Homo sapiens: one gene and its partners. The protein of the gene in region 2 interacts with the protein of the main gene of each other region in a biochemical or structural test. Each region holds a gene or a part of one and is shown on either strand. Other genes may lie near its edges.

The links.
Region 1: the proteins of LRRK1 (region 2) and RET form a complex in vitro, tested with the Homo sapiens proteins (2 studies listed by BioGRID and IntAct, with this or other methods).
Region 3: the proteins of LRRK1 (region 2) and ITCH form a complex in vitro, tested with the Homo sapiens proteins (2 studies listed by BioGRID and IntAct, with this or other methods).
Region 4: the proteins of LRRK1 (region 2) and ECHS1 form a complex in vitro, tested with the Homo sapiens proteins (2 studies listed by BioGRID and IntAct, with this or other methods).

Annotation. Positions count from the first base shown.
Region 1 is NC_000010.11:43,108,055-43,115,076, reverse strand, and holds part of RET (proto-oncogene tyrosine-protein kinase receptor Ret isoform a precursor), read right to left. Parts: intron 6,047-7,022; coding exon 5,847-6,046; intron 3,871-5,846; coding exon 3,612-3,870; intron 2,979-3,611; coding exon 2,853-2,978; intron 2,225-2,852; coding exon 2,114-2,224; intron 1,522-2,113; coding exon 1,402-1,521; intron 598-1,401; coding exon 341-597; intron 1-340. UniProt on the Homo sapiens protein: Receptor tyrosine-protein kinase involved in numerous cellular mechanisms including cell proliferation, neuronal navigation, cell migration, and cell differentiation in response to glia cell line-derived growth family factors (GDNF, NRTN, ARTN, PSPN and GDF15).
Region 2 is NC_000015.10:100,914,784-100,922,358, reverse strand, and holds the start of LRRK1 (leucine-rich repeat serine/threonine-protein kinase 1), read right to left. Parts: upstream 3,003-7,575; 5' UTR 2,908-3,002; intron 1-2,907.
Region 3 is NC_000020.11:34,366,263-34,373,284, reverse strand, and holds part of ITCH (E3 ubiquitin-protein ligase Itchy homolog), read right to left. Parts: intron 3,892-7,022; 5' UTR 3,815-3,891; intron 584-3,814; exon of another isoform or gene 559-583; intron 1-558. UniProt on the Homo sapiens protein: Acts as an Acts as an E3 ubiquitin-protein ligase which accepts ubiquitin from an E2 ubiquitin-conjugating enzyme in the form of a thioester and then directly transfers the ubiquitin to targeted substrates.
Region 4 is NC_000010.11:133,370,355-133,377,572, forward strand, and holds the start of ECHS1 (enoyl-CoA hydratase, mitochondrial), read right to left. Parts: upstream 3,001-7,218; 5' UTR 2,980-3,000; coding exon 2,892-2,979; intron 1,310-2,891; exon of another isoform or gene 1,202-1,309; intron 404-1,201; coding exon 206-403; intron 1-205. UniProt on the Homo sapiens protein: Converts unsaturated trans-2-enoyl-CoA species ((2E)-enoyl-CoA) to the corresponding (3S)-3hydroxyacyl-CoA species through addition of a water molecule to the double bond.

The DNA of each region.
Region 1 (7,022 bases), on a different chromosome or scaffold from region 2:
TGGAGGCTCTGAGTAGCACATGCAGACCTGCAGGCCAGGCTCCCCAGAAAGGCACCCCCTTCTGACTTCAGTGCCCCTCCATCCACACTGCTGCTCCCCTGCCCGATGCTGTGACCCTGACCACTGCCTCTCACCTAGATGGGAACGGCACCTCATCACAGTCCCACCCCACAGACTGTCCCCACACAGCGCCCTATGGAAATGGGGGCAGAACACAGGCCTCGTCTGCCCAGCGTTGGCAGCCCCTCACAGGATGGCCTCTGTCTCCCCAGCTGGCCTCCCTCCCTGGAAGGCAGCTGGGGAGGGCAGGGGATCTTCCCTGCCCCGCAGGGACCCTCACCAGGATCTTGAAGGCATCCACGGAGACCTGGTTCTCCATGGAGTCCAGCGAGGGCCGGCGGGCACCGGAAGAGGAGTAGCTGACCGGGAAGGCCTGGGCGGGCCTCCGGAAGGTCATCTCAGCTGAGGAGATGGGTGGCTTGTGGGCAAACTTGTGGTAGCAGTGGATGCAGAAGGCAGACAGCAGCACCGAGACGATGAAGGAGAAGAGGACAGCGGCTGCGATCACCGTGCGGCACAGCTCGTCGCACAGTGGATCTGTGGGTGGGGGTGGTGTGAGGCTTGGCACCGCCAGAGGCTCGGCACCACTGGGTACAGGCTGCGTATGCTCTGCCTCATGGCTCTCCAGCCTGCCGTGTCCGCGCCAGCTGGGAAGTGGCCATGGAGGTGTGGGAAGGCCTGAGAACACCCCATCGAGCATGGGTACTGCCATTTACTGCCCCCTCCTAGACCACTATTGCCCTCTTACAGATGGAGACAGAGGCTCAGAGAGGCTGAGCAGCCTGCCAAGGTCACACAGCAGAGGCTGTGCTCATTACACCAGCTGGCACTGGAGGGCTGGCAGGGGAGGTCAAAATTTTCCTCTGTTCCAAATGTCTTTGGCATTTTCTTTATGAAAATGCTAAGTGGCTAGGGACGTAGGGCTATATAATACCAGAAAACTCAATGACAGAAACGTGTCCCTATGCTCAGGCAGAACAGCACCCCTGAGTGTAGTCAGTGTGGCTGTGCAACCCACCATACCTGCTGACCTTGAAATGTGTTCCTGGGTGGGTCCCAGCTGCATGGTCACAGGGACAGTGACTTGTCAGGCTGACAAGTTGTTTGGTGGAAGAACTGCTTTTCTGGCCTGTCCATCATAGAACTTATGGCCAGAAGACACTTTACAGGGGCCCTGGCCCCTCTCCTGGGTGGAGTAACAGAGGCCCAGAGGGAGGGAGGGAAGTTTCATGGGGCCCACTCGCCTCCCAGCAATTTCCTCCCTTGTTGGGACCTCAGATGTGCTGTTGAGACCTCTGTGGGGCTGGGAGGTGGTGGTGGTCCCGGCCGCCACCCACTCACCCTGGATGTCTTCGGGCTCGCAGAAGCACTTCTCCTCCTCAGGGAAGCAGTTGCAGGTGCCATAGCCAGCTTTAATCCCCCGGGGCTCCCCAGGCTCGTGTCCCCCAACAATGCTGCCCCCTGAGGGCAGACGTAGCCCACTCAGCCTCCTGGGGCGCCTGACCACCCCAGGCGCCCATATTTCCAGGGCAGTGTCCCAAGGAGCCCCCTCCCCAACTGGTGTCGCAAGCATAGGCCCAGTGAGGCCAGGGGCCCAGCAGCTTGGCTTAGCCGGGCAGGGCTTGGTCACAGTGCCTTTCTGAAGCCATGGGTGAAGCCAGGCCCCCTCCTAACATTTCATCTGAACAAAGGACTCTGCCTCCAAAACTGGAGCCTGGTGGCCTGACCCGCACATTGCAGTGTCCCTCGTCTGGCTCAGGGCCGCACTTTCCCTGTCAGTGTCCCTACTGACCATTCTCTGCTTCTGAAATCTGTGTGTGCCGACTTCTGGGACCTCAGCAGGGGCCTGGACAGTCTGTGGGTCCCTGCCTTCCCCCTGTCCCTGACCCTGCCTGCTCCCTCCCCATGGCTAGGGTGATGCTGAAATGCACAGGAGGCTCAGCTTGATGCATAGAACTGACAGCCCTGGCAACTCTGGCTGAAGTGCCTGTGGGATCCAGGTTTCCCCTACTATCTCCTACCTGTTCCCATGCCCTGATTAAACCCTGCTTACGGAGGCAGTCCTGAGGGCAAATGTTGATGTCTTGGGTCTCCACAACATCGCAGTGGCCGTCGGGGCAGGTCTTGGTGCTGGGAGAGCAGGTGGAGAAGTTCCTGGTGATCCCTGCACAGGACACACAGCAGGCTGTCACCCATGTGGGAGCCCCGCCACACGCCCCCACCACCTCCTAGGCAGATCCTGCCCCTCTAGGGAGGAGCAACTGGAGGCCTGAGTAGGGAAACACCATATACAGAGCCTTGCCAGCGGAAGCATCCTGGGGAGCCATGGCTTATGGGAGAGGAGGTATGGGGGGTTCCTCACACAGGTGGCCCTTACAGCAAAGAGGCCGGGACCCTCTCAGGGCTGCATGGTGAGGGCCCCTCATGGTGGTGGGCACACCCAGGCTGGCCTCTGGCTGATGCAGACAATGAGTCCCCTGCCCACACCACATCCCCTGGCCGAGGACCTCCCAGAAAAACGCCATTCTGTCCCCAGCACATCCCAACTTTGGTTCAGACCTTCCCAAGTCCAGAGTGAATCCGGCCTGGGGACCATTCACTGTACTCACAAGCCCTCTCCCAAGCCCTGCACTGCTGCCCGCTATGCTGGCATCGAGAGCCACATGGGGGATGAGGTGCCAGAAGCAGACCTGGAGCAGGGAGAGCCACCCCAGGCTGGCAGGGCCCCAGGACCCCGTTTCCACCGGTGCCATCGCCCCTGCAGGCCTCCCTTGGGCGTTTCCAGGGCTTACCTTTGCCATCTCCTTGCCTCCACTCACACCTGCCTGTTGGGGAGCCCAGGCCGCCACACTCCTCACACTCCAGCCGTCTCTTGCTGACTGCACAGGACAGGGGGCAGCCCGCCTCCTCGGCCACATCTGCAGGTGGCAGACAAGCAGGGTCACAGGGGGCTGGCCTGGGCCCAGCGTCCAGCTAGTGCCCAAGGACAGGGAACAGCACCAGCTGAGCTGCCCACGGATGGAGCCCAAGGGGACCGGAGTGACAGACCCAGGGCAGCAAAGACAGTGCCAGGAGCACAGGGCGCAGGGCAGGGTACAGGACATCATGGTCACAAAGCAGGGGTCACCTGGGCTGGGGTAAGTACAGGAGGAAGGATGTGAGTGCAGCCAGATTCAGCCAACGACGCCCTGTGGGACCTACATTTCAGATACACAATGAATGGCATGAATGGCAGCTGTGTCAGCATGTTCCTAAGAGGGCATGGATGGACCTAGAGGTGTGTCTTTCGAGAAGCTGCAAAAGTTGCATGGAACACACCTATACCAAAAAACTGCTTGTTGTTTACCCAAAATTCAAATTTACCCAAGGTCCTGTATGTTATCTGGAAGGAGCAACCATTTACTGCTGGGTCACTCAGGGTGAAGCTGGTCCATGCCTTCCCCACTCCCCAGCTAAGCCTTGCAGCTGTACTGCTTTTCTCAAAGGGCAGGAGGCCCAGGCTCCAGAAGCCCCCAGGACCCCGACCCTCCCTCCCTGGAGCAGGCACTCACATGACCCCTCCACTGTTACAAGCAGCTGGGCCTGGGCCTGCCTAGAGGTCTGCTGGTCGGTGGCCACCACCATGTAGTGAAGTTCGGCACACTTGGGCCGCCGCAGGGCCTTGGTGTCATTCACAAACAGGATCCCCGAGGTGTCCTCGGCTGAGGTGACCACCCCTAGCGTGCTGCAGTTGGCACCAGAGGAATGCAGCTTGTACTGGACGTTGATGCCACTGAATGCCTGGCAGTTTTCCACACAGACTTTCCCGATCTAGGGGGGCACAGGGGAACACCTTAGCCAGGCAGCTGGACCGGCCTGTAATGGCCTGAGGGTAGAGATTCCCACACAGCCTAAGTCCTGGAACAGCCCCCAACTGGGCCTGGAGACAGCAGCCCCCCCGAGCACCCTGTCCTCCACCCCTCAGAGCCTTCATACCCACCCACCTGCCCCAGCCCTGCCCTGCCCCGTTCCACTCAGGCCACATGTTACCAGCTGCCCCTGTTCCTGGGAGCTGGAGGTCAAGGCAACCCAGGGCCTCGAGGTTCAGTTTGGTGGCAGGAAAAGCCCCAGGCAGGCCCTGACTCAACCCTTTACTCCCCTTTCCTCCCTCACTCAGACAACAAAGCCGCCGGAATGTCTCCCAGGCTCCTCCCTGGCTGCTCCCAGCTGCCCCAGCAGTGCTCTGGGGACCCCTCACTCCTCCCTCAGTGCACAGGGTTTAGAGGTCCACCCTGCCCTGGTGTCCCCTGGTCAGAGCACTGAACCCCAGCCACAAGACTCGGGAGCATGGTTGCCCCAGCCCATGCAGGACCAGGGGGCCTCCCTGGGACTTTGAGCAGAGCCTCTGGGAAAGAGGAGCCTCTTCTCCTGGGGATGCCAGGCTCTGGGACTTTGACCAGAGCCCCTGGGAAAGAGGGGCCTCTCCTGGGGATGCCAGGACCTGGAGTCAGGCAGCTGAATTCTTTCAACCTCTTGGCAACTCTTGCAGCTGCTTGAAACCAAAAGTTCCACAGATGGCGAGATGGGGGCGGGCCAGAGCAGGGCTGGGCTCTCCCAGGCCCACAAGTGACCACAGCAAAAACCAGCCTCCTGGGCCTCCTCACTTTCCCCTACAAAGCCCACTTCCAAATGCTCATGTGACTCTCAAAATTGTTCAGGGTTCCTGTCCCTAATTCACAGCTTTACAAACTGGGGAGAAAGGTGAGACCACAGTGAGGCTGAGGCTGGACTGGGATTCAGGCCCCCGTTGCTCCTGACAGAGGGCAGGTGACCCAACTTCAGCAATGCCTGCTCTTGCCCCGCCCCCCATGAGACCCCCCGGGGCCCTCTGTCTTGTCGCCCCTCTGTCTCTGATCCCACTCCCATTAAAGGCCAAGGAGGTGGTCGGGGAGCTTAGATATGTCCAAGGGTGGGCTCCCTCGTGGGCTGGACACGGGTGGCTGCCAGGAGCTGATGCGGGCACAGAACCACCCGAAAGAACTGGCAGATGGCCCCTGAAGAGGAGGCGCCACGGGCTGCTCTGCAAGGGAGAGCGGCATGCGAGAACATGCGTGCTGCAGTTTCAAGTCAACTTAATAAGTGCTTACGAGAAACATCCCAGAAAGAACACCACGATGTGCAACACTGGCGCCTATGGGTAGAAGGGATCACGCCTCATGCCTCATGCCTCATCTTCTTTAATGAATATTTATTACTTTTATGCCTTCTATTTCTAATCATTATTTTCCAAAGACAAATATAAATATACGCTTTCTAGCAAACCTAGTTACAAAAAGTAAAAAGTGGAAGCGTTTCCTGCCTCCCCCTGAGGGCACCACTGTGGACAGCACTGTGATCTCTGCACACTTGCAGATCCCTGTCAGGGAAGATCTGCTTTTGCACAAAGGGAGTCACGTGGGACCAACATCTCTGCAAGCCACTCTCACCAATCCACCAGGAAGATTCTTCCGAGTCACCATATGCAGATTTACCCAGTATTGCTCTTGCATTTTTGAAAATACATTTTAAAGATACCAAGAATGGAAAGGGGAAAAAAAGAGAGGCCCAAGGAGCCCCCAGCCCTGCCCACTGTGAGCTCTCCCAGGCCTCTTCTGTGCACACAGCTGTACCTCCTGGCCCTGGGCTCAGGACTCCACCCAGTCTACTCTGTGCTGGTTGGGCCAAGAGGCAGTGTCACCTGCCTCCCTGTGCCCCCATGTCCCTTGGCCTTTCAATCTTCCCCAGACAGGCAATAGGTATGGGCTCACCTGGGCAAATCGGCGAGCCCTCCTGCTCACGGAGAGGGAGTAGGTACTGGGCAGGTGCAGGCTGACCGGCAGCACCGACACGTTGAAGTGGAGCAAGAGGACGCCCGCTCCTGGGCCCTGGAAGTCTGAGTCATTGACCAGCACCGCCAGCTGCATGGTGCGGTTCTCCGAGATGGAGAGGTTCCGGTTGAGAACCAGCCCTGCAGGTAGGGGCACAACAATGACCACCAAGCTGCTCTGGCTGCTTCCTCATGTGTAGCACACCTCTTCCCAGACACAGCCCTGCACTCACACTGGTGCAAACACGCACTTTCACACATACAGTGCCATGCAACAGGCCTGGGGCTGGTCCTAAGTTAGCACCAATGTTCAAACGTTGGGATTTACTGAACTGAAAGTCCAAGGAACCCTTCTCAATTTGAGGCAGCCTGTGTGTGTGTGCATGTGTACGCATTGTATGGGGTGTCTGTGTGTATGATATGCTTGCATGGTATGCGTGTGTGTGGTATGTGTAAGTGTGTAGTATGCATTTGTGTGGTGTCTGTGCATAGGGTATTGGTGCCTGTGTGTATGGGGTGTTTGTGTATAGAGTTGTAAACTGAAACTAAAATCTTGAGTCCCCGGACCAACTGAATAGATCCCCTCTTGGCCAAGGGACACCAGAAAAACCTTAAAAACAGAATTCTGGGCCATGACAGGAAGGCAGGGTGGACTTGCCTTATTAGGCCCTCTTCCTGCTGGAGTTTGGACACAACTGACCGGCATTAACATTAAAACAGAGATCATAAGACTGACAGATCGGACTCTTTGTGGCAGTAAGATACCAAATTATAAACAGGACCTAAGGCCATGCCAGGCAAGGGTTAAGAAACACCCTACAAACCATAACATTGGTTTTCTTTTTTGAGACAGAGTCTTGCTCTGTTGCATCTCATTGCAGCCTTGACCTCCCAGGCTCCAGCCATCCTCCCACCTCAGCCTCCCAGGTTCCTGGAATCCAGGCATGTGCCACCACGCCTGGCTAATTTTTTGTATTTTTTTTTTTTTTGTAGAGACAGGGTTTCACCATGTTGCCTAGGCTGGTCTCGAACTCCTGGACTCAAACAATCCACCCGCCTCGGTCTCCCTAAAGTGCTGGGATTACAGGCGTGAGCCACTATGCCTGGTCCATAAAAT
Region 2 (7,575 bases):
ACCAGTGGAAGACTCTGCCCCTGGAGCAGTTTTAAAATTCTAGTTACTATTTTGGCTTATATTCTAAGGTAGAAGTTTTAAGATGAGGTAATTCAAATTTTGCTCAATCTTTGCCCTCAAACGGATCTTTGCTTCCTCCTGCTTCTTTTGGGTCCAGAGAGGTGCCAACAAGTGATGATTACAAGTTACATGTCTTCATTATACACCCTAAAGAGGGCATCAAGAGGTTTTCAGCAGTAATGATGGTTTAAATGATTTTTCAAAACCTCATCAATTTCCTTTTGCCAACTATTTATACCTGCATTAATGAATAAACCTAAACATTTAATGGAAAAGAAAATAGATGGGTGCGGTGGTTCACGCTTGTAATCCCAGCTCTTTGGGAGGCCGAGGAGAGTGGATCACTTGAGGTCAGGAGTTCGAGATCACCCTGGCCAATATGGTAAAAACCCATCTCTACTAAAATTACAAAAATTAGCTGGGCATGCTGGTGGGCGCCTGTAATCCCAGCTACTTGGGAGGCCGAGGCATGAGAATCACTTAAACTGGGGGAGGTGGAGGTTGCAGTGAGCCAAGATTGCACCACTGCACTCCAACCTGGGTGACAGAGCAAGACTCTAGAGAAAAGAAAAGAGAAGAACCTGTCATTCATTCTACAAATGTCTTATTGAGTTCTTTCTATGAAGAGGGAACTTCATGAGTTTGTGAAGCTGGTGGGGGAGCAGACAGCTAAGTAATTGCTATAAAGCTTCTGACAGCAGAGAAGCCCAGATATTTTAGGAGGCTTGGGAAGGACTGTCGATATCAGTTAGAAGTTAGAAGTCCCTTGCAAGCAAAGCATGCTAGACATGCTCATTCATATCACCTAGTTCCTTTTTGAAACAAAATCCTGGTCAAAATGGTTAGCCCATGATTCTAGAAATCTCTTGAGTGCTATTTGCATCCCTTACTAGCATTGGCTTTTGCCTATAAAATGTGTTTAATGGGTTTGGGGGCATCCAAATATCTTGGAGCTGCAGGCCAGAGAAATATGTTGTTCTCAATCCCAGATGAGCCCAAAAAGGGTGGAGGAGAGAAATGCTCCATGAGTCTGAAACCACAGGTAAGTTAGGGTTGTCCATTCCCCATCCAGTCACTCTACCACCATGCACGGGGTATCTCCCTGTACAGTTATGGGAATGAGGGCACAGCAATAAGCAAGACAGATCAGTCTCTGACCCCAAGAGCTCCAGTGGAGACCACAAGATAATTAAGGAGAAATTAAACAGATAAAGAAGGAGTACAGAATGGGGACTGCAGGGAGGCTGCAGAGTGAGGGATGTGAGAGGGAGCGTGGGTTTTCAGAGGGTGACCAGGGAAGACTTTCTGAGGCTGTGTGAAGAGTCAGGAGGCAGCAGTGCAGGGGACCAGTGCTGGACAGCAAGCTCAGCCAGTGTGGCCTGGGGCAATGGCCTGGTGGTCCGAGACAGCAGAGGCTGGATCAGCTGGGGGTGTGAGGAGAAGGAGGTCTCCTGGATTGCGTGCCAGTTGCAAGGAGAAGCTACTGAAGGACTCCATAAAGAGGACTGATATGGTCTGATTTACCCATTTAAACACACAGACACACACAGACGCACGCTGCTATATAGAGAATGGAGGAAGGGGGAACTGAAATCCTACAGTAAAGAGATGCTGGTACCCTGGACAAGGGGCAGGGTGGGGGGTGGGGGCATAAGAAAAAGGGGACAGATCAGGACACATTTTAGACATAGATTCAACAGACTGAATGTTTTTTATCTGAGGATCCGAGTTGACTGCGAGGTCACTGCCAGAGACATCGACTTTTGGGAGAGGGAAAGGTTTGGCTGACCGCAAAACCTCCTTTAGGAACAAATTAGGTGTGAGGTTAGTTTGTTATATTATTTTCTCTTTCAGGACATAGGCAAAGATGAAGAGAATCAAATCATAAAAGGCGTTTAATGTTAACATTTTCCAAAATTGTGCATGTTCTAGCTATCCCTTTAATGTCTGGGCATTTTGATACCCTGTGAGTGGCTGGCAAACTCTATCATTAGTGTACACGGTGAGAGGTTTGCTGAAAGCTATATGCCCCCGTTTCTCTACCTGTTGCAGGGGAAGTGTTCGTGGGAGAAAAACTTCGCGGCCTCATACTGTGAAGGGGTAGGTTGAGATGGCCACGGGGGTTCTCAGATTCTCCACCAGCGTCTCCTCGCTGACCCCGGCCTTCCTAGGCTTCCTTCCCGCGTCCCTGCCTGCCAGGAAGGTCCCCTGTAGCTTGCAGAGACCATGGTAGACAGAGCAGTTGTATCTGCGCCAGCCAGAGACCACCTGGGCAAGAAGCGTGACCCAGACATCGAGGAGGGTGAAGCCTCGCTGGGCCGCCCCGCAACCCCAGGAAGCCCCGGACCAGCGAGAGGCTCCCGGGCGGTCTCTTGCCGACACCCCGGCACGGGCTCACCCGCGCGCTCACACTCCGCCCGCTCCCCGCTAAGGGACTGGGTTCGCTCCAAAGGCAGAGGAAACCTATGGGCTCCCCGGCTCGTGTCTCCCGACTCGTGTCTCTTGCCTCCGCTTCCCAGCTTTCCCGACCCTGCCCGGACGGGGTTTCGGGGTTCCCTGCTCGGGCCCCGCGCGCTCCCCTCCCACAGGCTGGCTGGGCTCCGGGCGCGGCGGGAGGCAGCGGGGACGTGAGACCGGGGTCGCCCCACACGCCCTCCGCGCCCCTCGGGCCGCGGCCCCTGCGCAACGGCCCCCCGTGCCCGACCACGCGGCCGCCCGGAGCGCAGGGGCCCGCGGGCAGGCAGAGGCCGAGGCTCCCCGCGGGCGCCGGGCGCGGGCTCTGGGTTCCCCGGGCGGGGCCGGGAGGCAGCCAGGCCGCCGGGGGGCGCCGGCAGGAGCGGCGCTTACCTGAGGCGGCGGCGGGGCCGGGTGCGGGCGCTCCGGGACGCGGGGCCGGGCGGACACACTGGCGGGGCCGGGGCCTGGCCGTCCCACCGCCGTCTGCCCCCCGCGCCGGGGCCGGGCCCAGACGCACTTCCTCAATCCTGAGGCGGGCGGGCGGGGAGGGCGGCGCGAAGAGCGCGCAGAGCAAGGCCGCCGCCAGCTCTCCCAGGAACCGTCGCGAGGCGTCCCCTCGGCGGCCGCCTCAGTTTCCCTGGCCGTAAAACGCGGGCGATGGCGCTCGATGCCCCGGGAGACGCCGGGGTCCGCGGGCCCTTCCGGCACCGGGTCCTCCTTCAGGTTCGGGCACCCGGCTGCCTCCACGCGGGGCGAGCGCGGCGATGGGATCGGTCCGTGCTGCGCTCAGCCCCGCTTTCGCTATCCCTCTGCTCCAGGGGCAGCAAAATCAGCAGATGAGCCCCCAGCGCGCCTGCGGCCCACACACTGCGGCCGTAACAGTTAAACAGACGGGGAACATTCATGTGCGTAGAGCTCTTCACGGGGCGATACAGAAATGTGTCGTTCTAAAGCGTTAACGACCTGCAATTTGCATATCCTCCAACACATGGATTTTACTGATTCAATTATGGATGTGTGCAAAGAATCTGCTGCTCGGTGAGTCATTGTTAATTGTCGGCTTTGGGGGGAATACATAAAACGTGGAATATTGGCAATTTATCGTGTTTCGACCTTTTATAAAGGCGTCACCAGGCTGCTGAGGCTAATACAGAAACGCAGACCATAAAAAAGATCTGCGTCCACGCTGCAGGCGGGCCTCACGCTGAGCTCCCCGTGTCGACCCGGGGACAAAGCCTGCTCAGGAAGAGCAGAGGGTTCCACGCCCTGCAGGACCAGCGCCCTGGGCCCCTCTCCTGGAAAGTTATGACTCGCACGTTCCCAGGATTTAGCGCACATCTCCCCCACCCTCACTGCCATTTCACAGAACCGGGGCAGCCGCAGGGCTCCTGCAGGACCTCCCGGACGCCGCGGGGCCGTGTTCCCTTGAGCGGCTTCTTGGGTCCCTGGTTGGAGAGGGGACCACCGAGCAGCTTCGCTCTGCTCCTGGGAGGCTACTTCTGCCACTGGACGACTTTCCAAAAGGGTGAGCGCAGTTCTGCAATCCTGTTCTCACCCCTGAGGGCCTCACACCAGTTTGCAGGAGCCAGCAGTGTGATTGCCACCGACAAGTTCCCAACAATTTGCAGGGCGTGGTGTCCTCAGTGCTGAGAGAGCCCCGCGACGGCGGTGCAGCTCCTCCAGGGCGCGCAGCCCCGCCACCTGGCGCCACCGCGAGGGAGCGCAGGCCCAGGGCCCGGGCAGACGCTGGAGGGGACGCGGCAGGTGAAGATGGGGCACCTCCACTTCCCTTCTAAAGGAGCCTGGGAATAGGCTAGGAAATGTCCCCACTGTAGAAGACAGCAGGAACATCTGACACGCGGATAACCTGTGCTGAGCTCGTTATATTCCCAGCATTTAATTCTAGCCATTAGGCATGCGTTAGCCACAACTTCGCATAGGAAGGTTATTGCAGGTAAGTTAAGACTCCTTTCCACTTCTTCCTAAGGGTCGCTGACCCATGGTTCTCTAGCTTTTGCTGGTAATCCCACCCAGATTCTCAGCACCCTAGGTTGGAATGACCCCTCCTGAGGTGGGTGGGGTAGCTGGGAGGCACCTCCCTGAACTGACTTTTCTGCCTTTTTGAAGGTGCAGTGGCTGAGCGCTCCTTCAGTGTTTTCCGGTTGTCTTTCTTCAGCCCAGTACGCAGTTTCCTCAGACAGTCTTCCTTGAGCAACTTCCTAAACGCCCTTCATTATCCCCCTTCAAGCTCATGCCTAGGAGCAAGGAGCAAAGCCATTAGAAAGGCTTCATCCACCAGCAGGAGAAGCTAGGACATCCCAAAGGGTCCACTTCTAGAGAGGTGCCAACCCCCACACGCACACCAGGCACACAAATGCATGTGTGCACACGCATACCACACCCTCCAATTGTCCCCAGAATGGCTCCCTTCAGGGAGTCATGTTCCGGGACACCAAATGAGGGAAAATATCCTTCTCCTACAGTTTCCTGCTCACATTTGGATTGAGAAATGGGATGTCTCTAAATAATGTGTCTAAATTCTCTTAACATAAGTGCATATGTTACGAGAGATCTGATCCCAGCCTCCCTTTTTTGTTAAAGTGGTGGTGCTTTGCCACCCATGTCAAAATGATCTGGGCTTTCCACATCAAATGCAAGGGATGAGCTTGGAGGACATACCCCAGTACCAGCAATGATCTTGAGCCAATGGCAGCGTCAGCTCACAACGGGGTGATTGAGGCTTCTTGGTTAGAAGCTTTAGAAACTTGAGGTCAGTAAAACCCAAATTGATCCTTTCTCTAGATCCTCTAGATTTCTCTAGAGGAAAAGGTGACAAAAACAGACACTTGTGCTCACCGTCAGGGGCACAATGCTGTCCGTCAATCCTCATGCAGTCCTCCCCACCATTTCGCACACTGACACCATCACTACTTTATGATAAAAGGAGACTCAGGCAGCTTAGATAACAGCTGAAACTCAGCCAGCTATGACATGGAACCTCTGAGGCCCAGCTCCTTGCCTGGTCAACCCCCAAGCCCACAGAAATGGGTTTCACACTCAGGCAAAGCACTGGGCCCGACTGACTGAGCAAATGTAATTTTATGCTTACATTATTGATCCTGCTTTAATATCAGCCATTTCGTACAGGTCTCAGAAAGAGAAAGGCCTGCCATCGAATTCAAATGACTTTGGTCTTTAAATGAAAAAGCACAATGTTTCTCAAATATCCAATTTTATTTTATCATTCTCGCATTGTGGGATGCGATCTGCAGCTAGGATCGGAATTCCCAGGCCTATAGATTTTTAAACCACACCACAGGGGTAAACCTTAAAAGAAGTGAAACCTAACACTATATATATTTCCATTTCTAAATACAGTATATTACAGAAGTTTAAATATACCACCTCTGTGTACTTACAACTATAAAAAGATACAATAACTCTACCAATTATAAATAATGTAGCATTTCATATTAAAGACATTATCGTACAATGGAAGAATAGGAACCCTCTAACGTATCACTATCAAGGTTAGTGTCTATATCTACTTGAGATAAAATACTGAAAATTCAGTGTATGAAGCCAAATCCTGATTTAACAAGTTATTGGTAGTATAAGTGATAAGTGTTAGCTGATGAAGGGAAGGCAAATGTGGTAATTTATATCTCTGACAAGGGTGATAGGCCCATTTTATACATGGTTTTCGTTATACACACACTGGTTCTGTTACGGGCCCTCATTTTATTATTGCCCTCCCCAACTTAATTTGCAAACTTAAGCACTACTTTCCCAATTAGGAAAGTACTAGTTAGTAACCATAAAAGTATCCGTCGGATAACACATTTGTTTTTGTTTTTGAAGCTATATGGGAACACTTTCAGTTTCCCAAGTTAAAACATGAAATTGCACATCATCATTTGGATCCCCAAAGAGGAAAAGAAAAATTCACAACCTGCCAGTGAAATACTCAGGCCACTTGGATGAAGACCGAGGTCCTCCATAGAATCCAGGTGTTATTTACTAACTAATCAGAAATTAATATCAAAATAGGACTTAAAAATAACAAGGCTGTGTTATTACAGCAGTCTTTCCAGTTGTGTACGCTTTACTAATCTAAATTGGGTAACAGAACTGGAGAAAAGGAAGACTACACAGACTTATCATAAGCTGTTAGTGAACGTGATAGAAATGCGTAATTTGTTAAAGCGAATTACAGCTCTGATTTGTCAAATGAGGAGGTGAATTATCCTAGGATTTGCTATGCTGTTGTGGCGTTAGAAGATTGGATCTTTAGCAGCAAAGGTAACCTCAACAATATTTTCTGCTTAAGAAAGTGCCTTGGTTAAGGTAGACCGTGATATCGTCTTTGACTAAGCTCTCTGGGCTATTGATTCTGTCATATTCCAAAGGCAGTATTGGTTTGAAGCCGAATCTCACGGTCAATGTCAACATGCAATCCACAAAGACCCTGGCGCCCTTCCACGGTATGCACTAACCAAAACTTTCTCACTGTGAAATCCTTTTTTTAAAAACAAGAAAACAAAAAACAAAAACCAAAAAACCTTACTGTGAATCCTTTCCCAAGGAATGGTCCCACCTTCACCTCGGAAAGAGGCGTGGCTTGCTCTGTAAGCAGGTCCACCCTGAGGAGACCGCTGGTGCAAGAGCCCTGCTTGCAGAACACACAGGGGGTTTTCCCACATTCTTACTGGAGTCAGATTCGGCAAAGCATTTCAAGCAACTGCTGGACACTTCAAATACCACTCCCTGTTAACAACGCCCTGAGTATCTCACTGTCTCCAGGATCTGGTTTAAAGGGAAACACAGAAATGGCCAACAGCTCCCTCCCCAGGCAGGACTGCGATTTCACAGACAACCTATAGGCATCCCCAGTCTGGTGAATAAACAGGAGAGTGAGAGGAAAACAGCAATCATTCAACTCCAGTAGATGTAAAGCCTCCAGAAGAATGTGTCCCGGGAAGGTCAGAAATGTCATTTTTTTCCTCCAGCACATTTCATCTGCCACATTCCGCCGTCCGATGTTTGAGGAAGGAGCCC
Region 3 (7,022 bases), on a different chromosome or scaffold from region 2:
AAAAATACATTTGGCCAGGTGCAGTGGCTTATGCCTGTAATCCAGAACTTTGGGAGGTCGAGGCAGGTGGATTATTTGAGGTCAGGAGTTCAAGATCAGCCTCACCAACACAGTGAAACCCTATCTCTAGTAAAAATACAAAATTAGCTGGGCGTGGTGGCACATGCCTATAATCCCAGCTACTTGGGAGACTCAGGCAGGAGAATCGCTTGAACCCAGTGGGTGGAGGCTGCAGTAAGCTGAGATTGCACCATTGCACTCCAGCCTCGGCAACAAGAGAAAAACTCCGTCTCAAAAAAAAAAAAAAAAGGAATACATTCAATCATGTTAAAGGAACCAAAAAATCTGAACTTAATTTCTTAAATTGCAATGCAATGAAACTCTTGTAACATTTACCAACTTCCTTTTTATAATAATCAATCACTGGCAAGGAAGTCTGTTTTCCTGACAAAATCCTTAAACCAGGAGTTTTATATTTGAGTACCCCTTGGAACCTAGCACAATAGCAGCTCAACAGATCCTTGTCAAATATTACAAACTTAAACTTTCTATACTTACGTTTCCTACAGGTCTCTCAGTGCCAATGTTTAAAGTAGAACTTAAAAGGCCGGGTACGGTGGCTCATGCCTGTAATCCCAGCACATTGAGAGGCTGAGGCAGGCAGATCACGAGGTCAGGAGATCGAGACCATCCTGGCTAGCACGGTGAAACCCCATCTCTACTAAAAATACAAAAAATTAGCCAGGCATGGTGGCGGGTGCCTGTAATCCCAGCTACTCAGGAGGCTGAGGCAGGAGAATTGCTTGAACCCGAGAGGCGGAGGTTGCAGTGAGCTGAGATTGCGCCACTGCACTCCAGCCTGGGTGACAGAGTTAGATTCCCTCTCAAAAAAAAAAAAAAGTAGAACTTAAAATAACATGGTTTCTCATTTATAAAGCATCAGACATTATGAAGCCTTTTTTTTTTTTTTTTGAGACAAAGTATCCCTCTGTCACTCTGTCGCCCAGGCTGGAGTGCAGTGGCGTGAACTCGGCTCACTGCAAGCTCCGCCTCCCAGGTTCACACCATTCTCCTGCCTCAGCCTCCCGAGTAGCTGGGACTACAGGCGCCCGCCACCACGCCCAGCTAATTTTTGTATTTTTAGTAGAGACGGGGTTTCACCATGTTAGTCAGGATGGTCTCGATCTTCTGACCTCGTGATCCGCCCGCCTCAGCCTCCCAAAGTGCTAGGATTACAGGGATGAGCCACCGCGGCCGGCCGAAGCCTTATTATAAGATATTTCTGATATCAGTCATATATTGTGATGTCAACAAAGCCATGAAAAATCAGTGAGTTAGCACATAAAGCACAGAATATAATAGAGTGAGCTGGAAAGAACCTGAGAAATCATATTCAAAACATTCAATAGATAAGTGAGGAAACCAGGCCCAGGGAGATTTAAGTGAGCTGCCCAAGATCACAGAATTTAAGTGACCAGTAATACCAATGGTAGAACGCAGGTTTCCTGAATGTTGGCTCAAATACCTTTCCACAAAGAACTGCTTTGTGAGCTTGAGATGAAATGGATATGCTGAGAAATATTTTAAAGATATTTTAAATACTTTAATAATACTTTTAAATATTTTTTAAATTGCTTTATAGTAGCTATCACAAATCATTCCACCATCTCCTTCCTTTCTCTTGATTATAAAAAAGAACAGGACCGGGCTCAGTGGCTCACGCCTATAATCCCAGCACTTTGGGAGGCAGAGGCGGGCAGATCACCTGAGGTCAGGAGTTCAAGAGCAGCCTGGCCAATGTGGTGAAACCCCGTCTCTACTGAAAATACAAAATTAGCCAGGTGTGGTGGGTGCACGCCTGGCCTCCCGAGTCCCAGCTACTCAGGAGGCTGAGACAAGAGAATCACTTGAACCCAGGGGGCAGAAGCTGCAGTGAGCCAAGATCGTGCCATTGCACTCTAGCCTGGGGAAGGCTCCATCTCAAAAAAAAAAAAAAAAAAAAAAAGAAGAAGTGATTTTATTTCCTTTGGATATATACCCAAAAGTGGCAATGCTGGATCATATTTTAGTTCTATTTTACCAGTATCTTCCTATTCAGTTTTTTTTTTTTTTTTTTTGAGACGGAGTCTGGCTCTGTTGCCCAGGCTGGAGTGCAGTGGTGTGATCTCGGCTCACTGCAAGCTCTGCCTCCCAGGTTCACACCATTCTCCTGCCTCAGCCTCCTGAGTAGCTGGGACTACAGGCGCCCGCCACCACACCCGGCTAATTTTTTGTACTTTTAGTAGAGACGGGGTTTCACCTTGTTAGCCAGGATGGTCTCGATCTCCTGACCTCGTGATCCACCCGCCTCGGCCTCCCAAAGTGCTGGAATTACAGGCGTGAGCCACCGCGCCCAGCCTCAGCTTTCTTATCTAACAATTCACCTGCTCAACTTCATTCACTCCCTATTCTCTTACTGCTTAACTTTATGTTCTACTTTTTTTTTCTTACCCAGTAGTCTTCCTTCTCTCCTGACCTTTTAAAGTGATCTGTCTTGTCCTCATGTTTTCCTTCACAATACTACTCTCAACTTCTCTCACCTTGTGGATCTAGATAACATTTCTTTTCTTTTTTTTTTTTTTGAGACAGACTCTCACTCTGTTGCCCAGGCTGGAGTATAGTGGCACGATCTTGGCTTACTGCAGTGTCCACCTCCTGGGTTCAAATGATTCTCCTGCCTCAGCCACCCAAGTAACTGGGAATACAGGCACATGACATCACACCCTGCTAATTTTTGTATTCTTAGTAGAGATGGAGTTTCACCATGTTGACCAGACTGGTTTCAAACTCCTGACCTCAAGTGATCCGCCCACCTTGGCCTCCCAAACAAAGTGCTGGGATTACAGGTATGAGCCACCGTGCCTGGCCAAGATAACATTTTAAGTCATGAATTCATTTCCTTTTCTAAAGATTTAATAGGTATTATTTTATTTGATCCACACAACAATGCCAGGGATGGAGACAGGAATCAATACTTACCTATTTTACAGATGTATAAACTGAGGTCTGGCAAGATTAAATAACTCGCCGAAAGTCACACAGCTTGTCAGTGGCAAAATCAAATCGGAACCCAGATCTTTTCTTTCCAAGTCCTCTATTCTTTCTGCACTGAACCATGTTGTCTTTTTTTTTTTTTTTTTCCGAGACAGGGTCTCACTCTGTCACCCAGGCTGGAGTGCAGTGGCGTGATCATGGCTTACTGCAGCCTCAACCTCCTGGCTCAAGTGATCCTCCCATGTCACCCTCCCAATCAGCTAGGATTACAGGTACACGCCACCACACCAGCTGATTTTTTTTTATTTTGTGTGGAGTCAGGGTCTCGCCATGTTGTCCAGGCTGGTCCCAAACTCTTGGGTTCAAGTGATCCTCCCACCTTCGCCCCACAAAGTGCTGGAATTACAGGCATGAGCCACTGCACCTGGCCATGTTGTCTTCTTTTTCATTACCCACCTCTTAATCCTACACATGCACATGTCTAGATAGTATACAGAGATAAACGTGTATAAAACAACACAAATAGAAAAAGTATGCATATGTATAAGGGATCTACAAAAACAGAAAAGTCAGAAAACCCAAATTAAGAGCACAGTGTGGCTCACAGGCTAATCCCTGCAGAGGCAGCTTTGGGTTTCAGAACCAAGTGAAGCTGCCTATATGTTCAACCAACTGATGCAGCTAGCATCAACACTGCTCTCTCCTCACAGCAGGTATAAGACCAGAGCTTGGCCTCTGCATCACTCTTGCCCCCAATTTCTCTCACAGGATGACACCATACCTGAAGTTCTCACAGTTTGAGTCACTTCCTTGGGTTAAGGCGTTGTCTCCACAAGGCCACCGTGAAATGCATGGTACCTGAGAAAGGAAGGAGAGTCCATTAACACATTACTTCTATATTTTTTTGTTTGTTTGTTTTTGAGATGGAGTCTTGCTCTGTCGCCAGGCTAGAGTGCAGTGGCATGATATTGGCTCACTCCAACCTTCGCCTCCTGGGTTCAAGCGATTCTTCTGCCTCAGCCTCCTGAGTAGCTGGGACTACACTACGGGCGTGCACCCCCACGCCTGGCTAACTTTCGTATTTTTAGTAGAGATGGGGTTTCACCATATTGGTCAGGCTGGTCTTGAACTCCTGACCTCGTGATCCACCCACCTCAGCCTCCCAAAGTGCTGGGATTACAGGCGTGAGCCACCACACCCAGCTGACCTCTATAGTTAAACACATCAGATCTGCAACGACCTTGCGACTCTAAAAGCACAAAGTCTCTTTTAAAAATTTCATGGGATAGACAATTTTTAATGGAGCAGACAGGACAAAAGAAAGAACTGAGGGAAAATGATTCATACGTATTATGGGAAGACACCAATCTGAGTATGACGGCTATCTGGCAAAATGAGGATGGCCATATAAATACACCAGCCTATAAGGGTCACCATAATGATAGTCCCTGCAACTTGGAGACTCCTAGGGACAGGAAAAGAAAACGCACACCAAGGATCTGGATATAGTCAGTTCTGAAAAGAAGCAAAAAAGCTGAGCTGGCAGCAGTTTTTCAAGGACAGTACACTGCTAGACTGGAGGAGGATAGAGGCAGGAACAGCTTCTGGTTAACTGCTTCTAGTTGTGAGGATAGTTTCCAACTTAACGTTTTTAGCTGAAAGCCAACCTCCCAACCAGAGAATGCTGCAATTCAATTCTGTGAACCCCCTAACTAATTTATATTGACTCAAAGCCAGTATCATTTACAGCCATAAAAGTCAACATGCCTTTACTGAGTGCTTATTATGAGCCCAGAATTTGGCTAAGTACTATAAATACAAAAAAAAAAACCTTACATACTTTTGTCTTAATTCTTATAAAGGAAACCAATGTCCAAAACCCAAAACAGAGACTTAGGCAACAAGAAAGAAAGTGGCAAAACAACAAAACAGATGACTATTTCCTATCAGTACTAACACGAATTTTTTTTTTTTTTTCTTTTGAGACAGAGTCTCATTCTTGTTGCCAGGCTGGAGTGCAGTGGCACAATCTCAGCTCACTGCAACCTCCGCCTCCCAGGTTCAAGTGGTTCTCCTGCCTCAGCCTCCCAAGTAGCTGGTACTACAGGTGCATGCCACCACACCCAGCTAATTTTTTGTATTTTAGTAGAGATGGGGGTTTCACCACGTTGGCCAGGATGATCTCGATCTCCTGACCTCGTGATCTGCCCGCTTCAGCCTCCCAAAATGCTGGGATTACAGGCATGAGCCACCGCGCCCGGCCCTAACACAAATTTCTTAAGACAGAATGAATATAACAAAACTTACTTCTAGGCCAAAATTCCTTGTTAAACTCTTGCCTAAACAGTCAAGACGCATAGGCTAAAAATCTCCCTTTTCTTTTTCTAGTCTAATACCAGAAGCTCTTCAGTAGTGCACATTGATCTTTGTAAACCAGAGAATACCAGTCCCAGAGTTGCAAAACCCAGTTCTAGTTCTAGTTCTTACTCTTAACTAGTTTCAGGTAAATTATTTAACCTTTAAAACAAACAAACAACAACAAAACAGAAAACTAAGAGATTGGACTTATCTAAGAATAGCATATATTTGGCACATGTCTACTACCTACTAGGTAACTGTCCACAGGAGACATCATTGATCAACCATAATACAATTTCTCAGAGCACCTACAACCAGAATCCTTCCAAACACAGTGCTTCTGGCAGCTTCCAATTAGAGCTGGCCAATAAACCAAAATATATTTGCCATTATGGACTAGATAATCTCTGTAACTTCTCCCAACTCTAAAACTCAATGAGCAAGTTTCTACAGGCTGAGAGAAAAACACTCCCAACAAGCCTAGATCAATACTTTTTAGAGGCATAAATTTCAGTCCAAACTCCAAGTTCTAAATTAGCCAGGCTTGGTGGCATGCACCTCTAATTCCAGCTACTTGGGAGGCAGCTACTTGGGAGGCTGAGGCACACGAATCGCTTGAACCCGGGAGGTGGAGGTTGCAGTGAGCCGAGATCACATCACTGCACTCCAGCCTGCATGGCCGAGCAAGACTCCATCTCAAAAATAGTAACAATAACAAACTTCAAGTTCTCTTCCAAATTACACCTGACATAGTTCTTTCTAATTTCTCAAAGATGCTAATGAACAATTCACTCTCATACTATACATAACATATATAACCTGGCAATATTATTCAGACTTGCTAATGGGTTCTTTTGACAGAAAAGGAGCCCTTTACCCAGATTAGCTCTAAAAAAAAATCCTCATCTAGAAATATGGCAACAATATTGCACTAGTAAAAAGCTAAATCCAATCCTTTGATCATCCCCACAACCTCTCTCCAAGGTCAGGCTTTGTCATTTCTCAACTAGACTTCTGCAATAGCTAGTCCCTCATCCTTTCGCTCATCACCAGAGCAATCTTTCTTTTTTTGTTTTTTGATACCTATCTTTGTCCTGCAGTACACAGCAATTTTCTAAAACACATATGTACTCACATCATTTCCCTGTCGAAAAATCTGCATCTATTTCTTTTTTTTTTCCTTCCTTTTGGTAAAGACGGGATATCACCATGTTGCCCAGGCTGGTCTCAAACTCCTGAGCTCAAGCGATTCACCCGCCTCAGCCTCCCAAACTGTTGAGATTACAGGTGTGAGGCACTGAGCCCAGCCCTGTATCTATTTCTACCAACATAAAATTCCAAATTTTTAGCATTATACTTAAAATTTTTAGCCAGAGCACAGTAGCTTACACCTGTAATCCCAACACTTTAGGAGGCCAAGGTGGGAGGACCACTTGAACACAGGAGTTAAGACCAGACTGGGCAACGTAAAGAGAACCTTTCTCTACAAAAAAATTTTAAAAATTAGCCAGGCATGCTAATGCATGCCTGTTGTCCCAGCTACTCAGGGAGGCTGGGGTGGGAAGATCACTTGAGCTCTGGAGGTCCTGTCACTGCACTCCATCCTGCGTGACTGGGTGAGACCCAGTCTC
Region 4 (7,218 bases), on a different chromosome or scaffold from region 2:
CTGGTGGAGCACATGCAGCTCTCTGGCATACACAAAGCTGCTCATGCAAGCCGTTCCCATGACCGTCTTCACTCGATATTTGAGGAAGTCCCCAGTCGCATGCCTCTGCCATCACAGAGGCGCAAATCTGTCTGGAGGCTTCTCCCAAGGCCATACGTGCCTCCCACATCTGCCCAGACACAAAGGCCTCTGCTGCCGCGCGTACCTGCAAAGGCCTTATCCCCGCCGGTGAGGACAATGGCCCCCACGGCCGGGTCCTCCTCGAAGGTCTTCAGGGCCTGGTTGAGCTCGTCAATCAGGCCATCGCAAAGTGCATTGAGGGCCTTGGGGCGGTTCAGTTGGATCAACCCCACGGTGTTATTCTTCCCTCTTTTTTCTGCGATGATGTACTCAAAGTTAGCACCTGGAGCAAGAAGGCAAAAAGGGGTATCTATTCACACAGGTATCAAACTGGGGAGAGTGGGGGAAGGGATGTGGCCCCATCGGTGGATACAGTGTGACCCCAAGAGGCCCTCTGAGGGCTCCCTGCCGAGTCCTCAGTGGCTCCAGGTGTAGCTCTCAGCCACAAGGATAGATGGTAGCCTTGGTACCATTCTCTCTGCTTTCACATGTGTTTGAACATGTCCTAAAGAAAATCCCCGGGCCGGGCGCGGTGGCTCACGCCTGTAATCCCAGCAATTTGGGAGGCCGAAGCGGTCGAATCACAAGGTCAGGAGATCGAGACCATCCTGGCTAACACGGTGAAACGCCGTCTCTACCTAAAATACAAAAAATTAGTCGGGTGTTGTGGCGGGCGCCTGTAGTCCCAGCTACTGGGGAGGCTGAGGCAGGAGAGTGGCATGAACCCAGGAGGTGGAGCTTGCAGTGAGCTGAGATCATGCCACTGCACTCCAGCCTGGGTGACAGAGTGAGACTCCGTCTCAAAAAAAAAGAAAAGAAAAAAAGAAAAATCCCCAGCACAGAACACAGCCCACAGCCGCTTTCCTTCTCCTAATATGCCTTGGTCAGCTCTTCCCAGGACACCACTCTGGAGACAGCCCTGGACTCTGCTGAGACAAGGCACCAGGAAACACCTTCTTTCAACAAATGCCAACAGGTGAGGGGGTGTAAGGCAGCTCCTTGCACTTGGTACCGCCCCAGTGCCAAGACCTCTGGCCAACTGGACGCAGGGTGGGGGATGTGAAAATCCTGGGTGTTCCTGCAGCATTAAGATCAGGCACAGGTCCGGAGCAGCAGGCCAGCCCGAAAATGGGAGACGCAGGCGCTTCTCGGTTGGCCTGCTGCACAGGACCTGCGCCTGCTGGGTGGACAGCAAGGTGGGAAGGAGACAAAGGACAATGGCGTTCCAGGGGTGAGAAGGTGAACCTGAAAAGACAAAGGTAGCCTGTGTGTTGGATGCTTGCCTCCGTTAGTGGCAGAGCAGGGATCATAGTCCCTGTGCTATGGGTTTCTTTTTTTTGGAGACCGAGTCTCACTCTATTGCCCAGGCTGGAGTGCAGTGGCGCAATCTTGGCTCACTGCGACCTCTGCCTACAGGGTTCAGGTGATTCTCCTGCCTCAGCCTCCCGAGTAGCTGGGACTACGGTCACACACCACCACACCTGGCTAATTTTTGTATTTTTAGTAGACATGGGGTTTCACCATGTTGGCCAAGGTGGTCTTGATGACCTCAGGTGATCCACCTGCCTCAGCCTCCCAAAGTGCTGGGATTATAGGCATTAGCCACTGTGCCCCGCCGTATCCTGTGGGTTTCTAGGGGTAACTGGAAGATCACAGGTGAAGTGTCTGGCAGCAGTGCCCGCCATGCAAGATCCAGGAAAGGGCTGCTGTCAGGGTGGAGAAGCCGAAGGCCAAGGAGAGCATGGAGATGAAACCAACACAACTCAGTGGTCCACTGCTACACAGGGTGAGGGAGGAAGAGGAAGCAAGAGTTCTTCCCCAGCCCAAGGCATGGCCCAAGATTCCTCAGATACTAGAGCCGGTGATGGCCGCTCATGAGTGGGGCCCCGGGTGAGCCACGAGGGAGGAAGAGGGCAGCCCCCTGTGGCTGGGGAGGAGGTGTCAGCTTTTCCCTTAGGACCCTCTGAGGGGTGGCCCTGGTCAGGAGGCACCCAGGACAAAATGCACCTGCATCTCCTGTTCTCGGGCTGGCCGGCTGCACAGGAGCTACGCCTGCTCTTAGAGCCGAGGGAACACCCCGGATTTTTACAACCCCCACCCTGCGCCCAGTTGGCCAGAGGTCTTGGCACTGGGGCAGTACCAGCCAGCCGCCGGGCCTCCCGCAGGACGTGGCCTGGTGAGAGTGGCCTCCTGCAGAGCCAGGCAGGGGGTGGGGGTGCGGGCCAGGGTCAGGTGGGTGGTGTCGGTGCGGGGTGGCGGGTGGTGGGGGGGTGTTAAGCCTGGGTCAGGCTGTGGGTGCGGGTCAGGTGGGGGGTGCAGCACTAGGCGAGGGGGGTGTTGCAGGCCTGAGCCAGGCAGGGGCTGCGGGTCGGGGTCAGGTGGTAGGTGCGGGGTCAGGCAGGAGAGTGCGGAGTCAGGCCCTGGGGATGCGGGATCGGACGGAAGAGGGGTGCGGGGTCAGGCCGGGGGGTGCGGGGTCAGGTGGGGGGGTGCGGGGTCAGGCGGAGTGGGGTGCGGGTAGGGGTCAGGCCGGAGGGTGCGGGGTCAGGTGGGGGGGTGCGGGGTCAGGCGGGGGGGTGCGGGGTCAGGCGGAGTGGGGTGCGGGTAGGGGTCAGGTGAGGGTGCGGGGTCAGGCGGAAGAGGGGTGTGGGTTGGGGTCAGGTGGGGGATGCGGGGTCAGGTGGGAGGGGGGTGCGGTCTGGGATCTGGTCTGGGCGTGCAGGTCGGAGTCAGGAGGAGATTCGGGCCGCCAGCTCTCACCGCGCACTCACCCGAGGCGAAGGGACGCCAGGCGGGACAGCGAACCGGGGGCCTCAGCGGGCCGCGGACGCAGGACAGCAGGACACGCAGGGCGGCCATGGCTCTCTGGACTCCTCGCCCGGCCCCGCGGAGCCGCCCCCTCGCCTATAGCCTTTCAGGGCTCGCTCCGCCCACAGGCCAGCGCCGCGAGACCAGGCGGCCCTCGCGAGATCAGCCCGGGCAGAGTGAGCGGGTCGCTCTCCGCCAGGCCCCGCCCCCAGGCCCGAGCTGCCGCTCGCGGATCTAAGGCCGAGGGGCGTCCCCGGGACCCCGCCCTGGGCTGGGACCAGCGCCCTCCAGGCCCCGCCGCAGTCGCCCGCGCCCCCGCCCCCGCCCCAGCCCTCGGGGTCCCAGCTGGCCCCGGGGAGACCGCGCGGAGGCGGAGGCAACGGCGGCGCCTGCCGGGCTCTGCGCCGCCTCCCCCCGCCCGCCTGCCCGCCTGCCCGCCTGCCCGCCTGCCCGCCTGCCCGCCTGCCCGCCTGCCCGCCGGCGTCTGTAGCAGCGGACACAGCGCGCCCAGGCGCAGGGCCAGGCACGGTGGCAGCGGCGTGGGCACTGAACGCCACATTAGGAGGAGTTTTATTTTCATGCACACAAGACTTCAACAGATTTAAATAATAAAAATTTCATTCATTTAAGTTATTTTATTTATACCTTTTAAATATCTAGACAAGTATTGTGGAGCATCCATTTGTGTACTTGCCCGGATTCTGCAAACGCCAGGGTGGAGATAAAACCACCCTGGATAAAATGGAATGGAAAGCGAAACTGCTATTGTGACCGGTGGAGGGTGTCCAGGTTCTTGACGTCTTGAACAAAGAACTGGACAAAACGCACAAACAAAGCACGGAAAGAAGGAAGCAACAAAAGCGAGATTTATGGAAAACAAAAGTGTGGCCGGGCGCGGTGGCTCAGGCCTGTAATCCCAGCACTTTGGGAGGCCAAGGCGGGCAGATCACCTGACGTCAGGAGTTTGAGACCAGCCTGGGCAACATGGTGAAACCCCCCTCTCTACTAAAAACACAAAAATTAGCCGGGCGTGGTGGTGCACGCCTGTGGTCTTAGCTACTCGGGAGGCTGACGCAGGAGAATTGCTTGAATCCGGGAGGCGGAGGTTGCAGTGAGCCGAGATCGCACCACTGCCCTCCAGCCTGGGCGATAGAGCCAGACTTCGTCTCAAAAAAGAAACAAGAAAAGACAACGAAAATAACTCCACACTGTGGGAGCGGCTGAGCATAGCGGCTCAAGAGCCCCGTTACAGATTTTTTGGGGGGGTTAAATACCCTCTAGAGGTTTCCATTGGTTACTTGGTGTACGCCCTGTGTAAATGGAGAGGACACTTCTTGTCATAGCGGAAGTGTTTCCATTTGATTTAGTTCTAGGGAGTCAGCATGAATTGGCCTCCAGACCCTGTTCTCCTGCCTCACTATGTTCAAGAAAATAATTCAATTCAAACCAAAAATGAACATGCACCAAAATTTTATTTCAAGACCGAGGGTAAAAATGAAGACATCTCGTGTAAGTAGAAACAAATCAACAACAAACCTCAACAAACCTTTAGTAAACGATGCTCTATACTAGTGTAGTTAAACCTCTGGGACAGACAGGCCCAAAATGAAATGGCTCAGACAGAAAAGAGGTTTATTTCCTTCCTTCCTTCTCCTTCACCTTCTCTTCTTTCCTTTCTTTCTTGTCTCGCTGTCACCCAGGCTGGAGTGCAGTGGTGTCATCCCGGCTCATCATAGCTTGCGCCTCCCGGGTTCAAGCGATTCTCCTGCCTCAGCCTCCTGAGTAGCTGGAACTACGGGTGCTTACCACCATGCCCGGCTAATATTTGTAGTTTTTTAGTAGAGTCGGGAGTTTTGCCATGTTGGCCAGGCTGTTCTCGAACTCCTGACCTCAAGTGATCCACCGGTCTCGGCCTCGCAAAGTGCTGGAATTACAGGAGTGGACCACCGTGTCCGCCAAGAGGTTTCCTTTCTAACGACCCAGGAGGCCGGGCAGCTCCCGTCCTCCATCAAGTAATGTAGCCACAAAAGCACAAGCAACAAAGGGAGAACATATGTAAATTGGATTTCACCAAAATTTAAAACTTTTATGTCTGAAAGGACACTACCAAGATAGTGAGAGGACTGAACAGACATTCCTCCAATGAAGATAATCAGTGTCAGATAAGCTCAGCATCACGAATCATTAGGGAAATGCAAACTGACCCCTCAGTGATACGACGTCACACCTACTGTGCTGGCTGCAATAAAAAGCCCAACAGTCACAGCGGGTTGTGGGGGACGTGAGCGGGGAACGCTGGTACACTGCCAGCGGGAATGGAAAATGGTGCAGTCACTTTGGAAAACAGTCTGTTGTTTCCTCAAAAGGTCAAACAGCAACTCCACTCTTAGGTGTACACCTCAGAGAAATGAAGACAAATGTCCACAAAAACTTAGACATGAACGTTCATAGCAACATTATTCATAATAGCCAAAAAGAGGGAAAAAGCCAATTGTCCATCAACTCATGAATGGATAAACAAAATGTCATATATCCAAACAATGGATACATTAGAATGTATTAGACTATACAATGGACTCTATTCAGGAGTAAAAAAGAAAGAAGCGCTGATACACATTACAAAATGGACAAGCCTTGGAAATGTTATGCTCAGTAAAAAAAGCCAGACACAAAGGCCGTGCATTGAATAGGTTCCATTTCTATGAAATGTACAGAACAGGCAAATCCACAGAGACAGAAACTAGATTAGCGGTCACCAGGGGCTGGAGGGAGGGGTAATGGGGGGGACTGCTGAGGGGCATCCCCATTTGCTTTTTAGGGTGATGAAAATGTCCTAAACTTGGGGCCAGGCGCAGTGGTTCACGCCTGTAATCCCAGCACTTTGGGAGGCCAAGGCAGGTGGATCACCTGAGGTCAGGTGTTCGAGACCAGCCTGGTCCAACATGGTGAAACTCCGTCTCTACTAAAAATACAAAAATTAGCCGGGCGTAGTGGCACATGCCTATAATCCCAGCTACTCAGGAGGCTGAGGCAGGAGAATTGCTTGAACTTGGAAGGCAGAGGTTGCAGTGAGCCAAGGTAGTGTCACTGCACTCCAGCCTGGGCAACAGAGCAAGACTCCATCTCAAAAAAACAAAACAAAACAAAAAAGTTCTAAACTGGATGATGGTGACAGTGGCACAACTCTGTAACTAAACTGAACACCATTGAATTGAACACTTTAAACGGGAGAAGTCTTACAGCATGATGTCTATATCAATAAAGCTATTTTAAAAAATGAACAAGCCTGATTCAGTCAAAGCCACATGGGTAGTTGCCACCTTGATCACCATAGGTGGCATCACCCAAGGCCCTCTGGAGCTAGGAGAAGCACATACCTTGTACCAGTCAGATGGAAAAGAGGTTGTGTCCGTGTGTTCCAGCTGGTGGCTCTGGCATGGCAGGATTGTCCAGGACTGGCCGTGGTCACGTGCACTCTCCATTTCAGAGCAAGGGGGACGAGCGACTAACCCAGCCCCAGGTCAGCGCGTCAGCGGCCCGTGCTATTGGATTCAGGCTGTGGCACCACATCCAGGGGACAAAGAGCGCGTCGGTTGTCCCCACCCTGCAGCTCTTGGGTCCATGTCTTCTCTCTCCGCGCCATAAAGCCAGAGTTCCCATTTCAGTCACTACAATCACCCCTCCTTGCACCAGGCCTTCCAGGTGTGGGGCATGGGCATGTTTACCTCTGGCCTGTGTGGACCGCTGTGGGGAGGCTTGGCCAGCAAGTTGCTGAGCCAAGTATCTTTTATGGGATCCTGCCGCTCCACAGGAGGATCCGGGAGGCTGAACTAGAGTTAAGTTAGAATCTTTCGGTTCCCCTTCGGGCTGGGCTCCCCGCAGGAACCAGGAACGGGCTGGCCAGGAGGACATGATGGACCGGGAGAAGGTGACAGAGGCAAAGCCAGACCCTTCCTGTTCCATCTTGCAGAGGCTGTCCCAACGCGAGGTGAGGCCAGGTGCCTGGGGGACATCGATGCCTGACCAGAGCCCAGCCTGGACAGCCTTCCAGCAAAGGCTGGGCACTGGCCGACCGTAACGGCCCAGGAGAATGAGGACACGGGAGTCTCGGGGCTGGAGGAGCTGGCTGACCAGATGGTGCCTGACACGGTGCTGAAAACAGGGCAGCAGTCCCCAGAGGCTGAGGGGCCAAAGTAGCCTGTCCACCCAGAGTGGCGAGGCCCACGCCTGTGCAGGAGGCCTGAGGCATGGGGTGGCCTCCCTCACAGCTGTGCCCACCCAGCCTGTGCG